Regions from separate parts of the Homo sapiens genome. Here region 1 is linked to region 2. The links come from fine-mapping of genetic effects on plasma protein levels. A gene starts in region 2. The other region holds a variant in brackets. All regions are shown on one strand. Distances are from middle to middle. Region 1 overlaps ART3 (ADP-ribosyltransferase 3 (inactive)). Region 2 holds the start of ART3 (ADP-ribosyltransferase 3 (inactive)).

What was found. PIP is the chance, under the fine-mapping model, that this variant and not a neighbour inherited with it causes the effect. Protein levels are from the aptamer-based SomaScan assay of Sun 2018.
Region 1: its variant is fine-mapped to the plasma level of the ART3 protein (Sun 2018, PIP 0.95).

Annotation. Positions count from the first base shown.
Region 1 is chr4:76,107,820-76,110,749 of GRCh38, forward strand. The region is part of intron 11 of ART3 (ADP-ribosyltransferase 3 (inactive)); the gene reads left to right. Among named protein-coding and RNA genes, the nearest start is that of ART3, 35 kb to the left of the region's middle. The variant CT/C (reference allele first, on the strand shown) is at 1,426.
Region 2 is chr4:76,073,032-76,075,961 of GRCh38, forward strand. ART3 (ADP-ribosyltransferase 3 (inactive)) reads left to right here and starts at 1,678. Exons shown (of 12, transcript NM_001130016.3): 1 at 1,678-1,788; 2 at 2,850-2,927. The coding sequence starts at 2,859.

The sequences.
Region 1 (2,930 bases), 35 kb after region 2:
GATAAATGCCTGCTTCTGTAATATAGAAAAAGTGAGAAATTTATTTTTCCTCAATAAAGGGAACAAAGTTGCAAGGTTTTAAGGCATCTTAATAACAGAGTATAATGTCATATCCAAAAGCTTGTGTGTGCATGTGTGTGTTGGGGACAATATAGCTTTGTTTTTTCGATAATCGTTTTCCATTGTATCTAGAGTTTCTACTCTTAGAACAGTGGTTCTTACCAGTCTGAAGACTGGGAGCAAAATATAAAAATAAAAAAGAAAATATATATTAAAAAAAAAAAGAACAGTGGTTCTCAACCCAATTCTCCCTTTATAACAAGTATTTTATAAAGTCCTTATATTATCCAGAAAGAAGATCCATAGATGAGATGCATTTGTACCCATAAAAATCAACATCATGTCTAAAGTAGACCGATGTTTACATTTATGCAAATAAATTTGGGTTGAAGAGAAGATTGGAAGCTATTCTATACAGGAAGTATAAGAAAATGGAGTGAAGAAATAGAGTAGATACTAAATAAAAACTGATGTTTAATGTTTATCAAAACTATTAAAAATATACATAAAACTGCTTTAGGTTCTGAGTTTGATTATTTTAAATAGGTTTTAACTTACATGTATGTCTAGCAGTACATTTTAAAGTTGTGCAGGAAGTTGGTCAATTTTTCATGGTCCAGAACTAGAGCACTGCAGGATATCTATCCCTCTACCTCCACTCCACTGTTAGCAATGATTAAAAAAAAAAACAAAAAACTCTTGACAATCGTCCAAACTGCCTCTTGGGGCAGTAATGCCCCCCTGAGAACCACTGGTCTGTGGTAACATACAGTCATGCATTGCTTAACAAGATGGGGTATGTTCTGATTAATGTGTTAAGTGATTTTGTCGTTGTGCAAACATCATAGTGTGTACTTACCCAACCCTAGATGGTATACCCTGCTACACATGTAGGCTACATGGTATAGCCTACTGCTCCTAGGCTATAAACCTTTACAGCATGTTATTGTGTTGAGTACTGTAGGCAGCGGTAACACAGTGGTAAGTATTTGTGTATCTAAACATAGAAAAGTTATGGTAAAAATATAAAAGATAAAAAATGGTACAGGTGTATAGGGCACTTAACATGAATGGAGCTTGTAGGCCCAGAAGTTGCTCTGGGTGGTGTTGAGCGGATGTGAAGGCCTGGGACACTACTGTACACTCCTGTAGACTTTATACATACTATACAGAGGCTACACTAAATTCATAACAAATTTTCCTTCTTCAATAGTAAATTAACCGTAGCTTAATGTAACTGTTTTACTTTATAAACTTAATTTTAATCTGACTCTTTTGTAATAACACTTAGCTTAAAACACACATTGTACAGTAGTACAAAAATATTTTTTCTTTATATCCTATTCTATAAAGCTTTTTTATCAC[CT/C]TTTTTTTTAACTTTTTAAACTTTTGTTAACAACTAAGACACAAACATTTACATTAGCCTAGGCCTATACAGGGTCAGGATCATCAATATCACTGTCTTGCACCTCCACATCTTGTTCCACTGGAAGGTCTTCAGGGGTAGTAACGTGCATGGAACTGTCACCTCCTATGATAATGCCTTCTGGAGTAGCTCCTGAAGGACCTGCCTCAGGCTGTTTTATAGTTAACGTTTTTTAATAAGTTGAAGGAGTACAGTCTAAAATAATGATTAAAAGTATAGTAAGTACATAAAACAGTAACATAGTTGTTTATTATCAAATGTTATGTATTATATATAATTGTATGTGCTATACAGTTATACAACTGGCAGTGCAGTAGGTTTATTTACACCATCATCACCCCAAACACGTAATATGTTACAACGGCAACGATGTTGCTAGGCAGTAGGAAATTTTCAGCTCTATTATAATTATAGTCTTATGGGATCTCTGTCATACATGTGGTCTGTCATTGATGGAAACATCATTATGCATTGCACGACTGTACTAATGCATGTGTGCATCTGCCTATCCACTTCTCTGTGTGTATACATCCAACTGCATGTTTATAACTATGGCAAGTACATTGATAATATGAAGGCTTTTACAAATCTGACTGGCTATTTTTCTTGGTTTTATTTATGAAATCTGAGTGGTGATCCCATTTGGATACTTCCAGTCAACGCTTCCCCGTAGTTCAAACAAAAAGAGTTTAGGTCAGCATGAAACAGTTTATCCTGTGGATGGACTCCACTGCTCCTCTCCACTAGTTCAAATGAAAGGGAAAGAGTTTCTCCAGCAGTGTATGTATGGAGGGAAAAACATTTATTTTTTTTTTATCATCTTGCAGAGATTAGTGTTTAAAAAACAATGCAGCTATAGTTAGCCCTCTGTATCCTCTGGGATTCAACCAACTGTGGATCGAAAATATTTGTGGGAAAAAATAATACAAATTTAAAAACCCATACAGTACAACAACTACTTGCATTTCATTTACATTGTATTAGGTATTATAAGAAATCTAGAGATAGTATAAGGTATACAGGAGGATGTGTGTAGGTATATGCAAATACTGTGTATGCTATTTTATTTATTTATGTATGCTATTTTATATAAGGGACTTGAGCATCTGTGGATTTTGGTATCCTCAGGGGTTCTAGAACCAGTCCCCAAAGGATACTGAGGGATGACTGTATATCCAGTTGTATGTTGGTGGTTATCTTGTTTGAAATAGAAGACACACAGAGTTAAACTTTACCTTGCATGTATATACAGAAAATGGAAATAGAAAAATTGCTAAAAAAAAATGCTAGAGAACTTGAACAACAGAAAATCATTATATTGGCTATATAGAAATGTAAAAGCATGTGAAATCCTACATAAAACCTAGCGTAGCAGATCTTGATGATATATAGTCGACCCTTGAACAACACAGGTTTGAACTGCATGGGTCCACTTATACATGGA
Region 2 (2,930 bases):
CTACATTCTAACATACTTGCATAATTTACGTACTTATTTTAGTTATTTGACTGCCTTCCCTCACAAGAATATAAACTTCACAAAGGCAAGATATTTATCCATTTCGTTCACTGGTATATCTCTAGTACCTAAAACAGTTCCTAGCACATTTTAAGGACTCAAATATTTGTTCAATGAATGAATGAAAGAAATTTGGTTAAAAACTGGAACAAAACAGGAATGGAGGCCAGCGACAGGAGAACTTCTCTACCTCATTTCCTGTAGGCCTACATGCTTGGAACTTAAAAGCAGGTTGTTGTGAGCCTAAGGCCTGAAGACATGCAAACTTTCTTTTTTCTTTCTAACCAAACTCCTGCTTTTTAAAAAATCATATTATTTCTGGGAGTGAGTCTGTGCTGTGTATTTAATCTTGGATTGCCAAGCCAGTGAGGTGGGAAAAGGTTGGAACATATCTCTATTCTAAAGAGTAGAGTTGGATTTTGTAAATATAGGTGTATTTCATGATAATTTAAAATGTTTTCTTGAAGTAATATATGTGTGTACAAAAAAAACACATATCATAAGTATATAGCTCACTGAATTTTCACAAACTGAATTTGTCAATGTAATTGGCATCCATAGCAAAAAGCAGAACCCAGCTAACATCTCAGATGCTCCTCTGTGCCCTTTCCAGTTACTAGCTACTACCCAGGGTGACCACTATTCTGACTTCTCATGCCTTGGAAGTGTTTTGCCTAATTTTGTTCTTGATATAAATTAAATCATACAGTATAAACATGCTTGTATCTCTTTTTTTACTCAAAATTTTGTTTGTGAGATTTATCCACATTGTTATATATGGTCAGAGTTTGTTCGTTTTCATTGCTATATAAAATTTCACTTACAGTCTAACCATTCTACTGTTGATGGATATTTGGTTTCCAGTTTGGGGGTTATTATGAATAGTGCTACTATCAACATTCTATTAATGTATTTTGGTGTATGTATGCGTGAATTTCTTTGGACATTTTTGTGTTTTTTAAATCCACAGTCAGTGAACCCTAAGTGTTCCTCAGCATTGCAGTCAGTATATTTACCATGTATGCGTTACTCAAATGACAGCTGTAGTTGCAGGCATTACCAAATCCTTCCCTCCTTAATGTTATCACTGGACTTTGTCTATACTTGGGATTCTTAACATGTTGTATTTTGGTTAAGTATGCGTATTCATGTTTTTTATTAGATTTTGAGTGCTTTTTAGTACTTTGTTTTACTTGCTTATGTATCCCGACTCCTGACGAGGTACCTGAAATATAGTAAGCTAGTTGAGCGAATGGTGATAGCTGTCACCATTGCCAGTGATTAACAGAGCAAGTTTCCCTAGTTATGTGAATCACTTAGCCTAGAGTAAAATCCATGCTTTAGTTTGATATCTCAGTGTCAAAGGATTAGGAATGGGAAGTCATTTCTCTCTGAGAGAAGCCCAGAACTGTGGGCTCAGAACTGAATGTGCTGTGTGGCTAAAGGGAATTGCTATGGCTTTACAAGCCTCTTGGAGATTTAAAGTGTTAACAGCAGTGATTCCAAGGCATAGTGTGGGGGGGCCAGATATAAATAGCAGAACACAAGTAGCGTAGTGTGCCACTGCCAAGCTACTGCTGGGGGTGTTTATAAAAAGAAAAGCATTCCTGTCTCAGCTCTCACTGTCAACAACATCCCATCCTGAAGACTTGCTTACCACAACTGAGAGTGGGGAGTCAGTTTGAGGCCTAGCATCACTTAAACTTCCTCCAAAGGCACAAAAGCCAGGTAAACCTTTTGACTTATTTACACTCAGACTAAAGAAATGAACAATTTTTAGGAAAATCCTGATCAAAGCTTGCTTAAAACATATTGCCTTGTGACAGATATCTATCATCTTATATTCAAATCTTTTTTGGAAAGAGAAGTTTAACACAAAGTAGCATGTTGGTACTATATTTTAGTATTTTTAGTAAAAACAAAACAAAACTGCTTCTGAAGAAATATGGGAAACTGAGGCCAAAATGATCTATAAAAGGGAAGACTTCTCCCTTCCCCTGTGCTGTTCATTCTCATTTTTAGAATCCAGAATATGGTGATTGGTAGGGTAAAATAGAAGCTTCATTTGAGTTACATTATCATAAATACTGGGATGAATATTAGGCATTCGGCCAATAGTTGTATAATCTTAGAATTGCTGCCTACCCAGTTCCTTCTTATTCTTGTTCCCGCCTTCAGAAAGTTATGTAAGACACTTATTTTACCCTCGGGCTTCTCTTGATTGTATTTGGGGGAAGGGGGCCATCTCTGACAATCCACTGCTTTGTACCACTACTGACCTCATCATCTCCTCTGTCCCACTCAAAAGGGCATGACAATGTGCAAAGAGGATAGAAGAATGGATAATGTGCATGGACATATTCCTGGGGAATTCTTAGAAACTGGGAGCTAGGGGACCAATTTGAGACTGCTGTTTTTTAGTCTGATTGTGTTATTTCCTGTGCACGCTGAGGGGAGATTTAGAGATGGGAAGAAAATATGACTCCCAGTGACTGTGGTGGGAGAGATGACATGTCTGGAGGAGTATGGAAATGCACAGATTTAATCTTGAGCAAATCACTGAAATTCTAAGGTGTTTTTGTTTCCTCGTCTGTAGAATGAGAGCATTAGACCACTAGATAAAGCCTAATGGCTCTTGTAGCCCGTTAGGAATTTATTGATAATCACTTCCTGACCATCATGCTATCCACTCACATTCTAAATGAAAAAATACGCAGTGTCATCCTATTCTACTTCCCTACACCTCTTTTTTGAGTCTACTGAATTGAAATTTCTTTATTTTAATTTAGAAGAGAAAAATGAAGACGGGACATTTTGAAATAGTCACCATGCTGCTGGCAACCATGATTCTAGTGGACATTTTCCAGGTA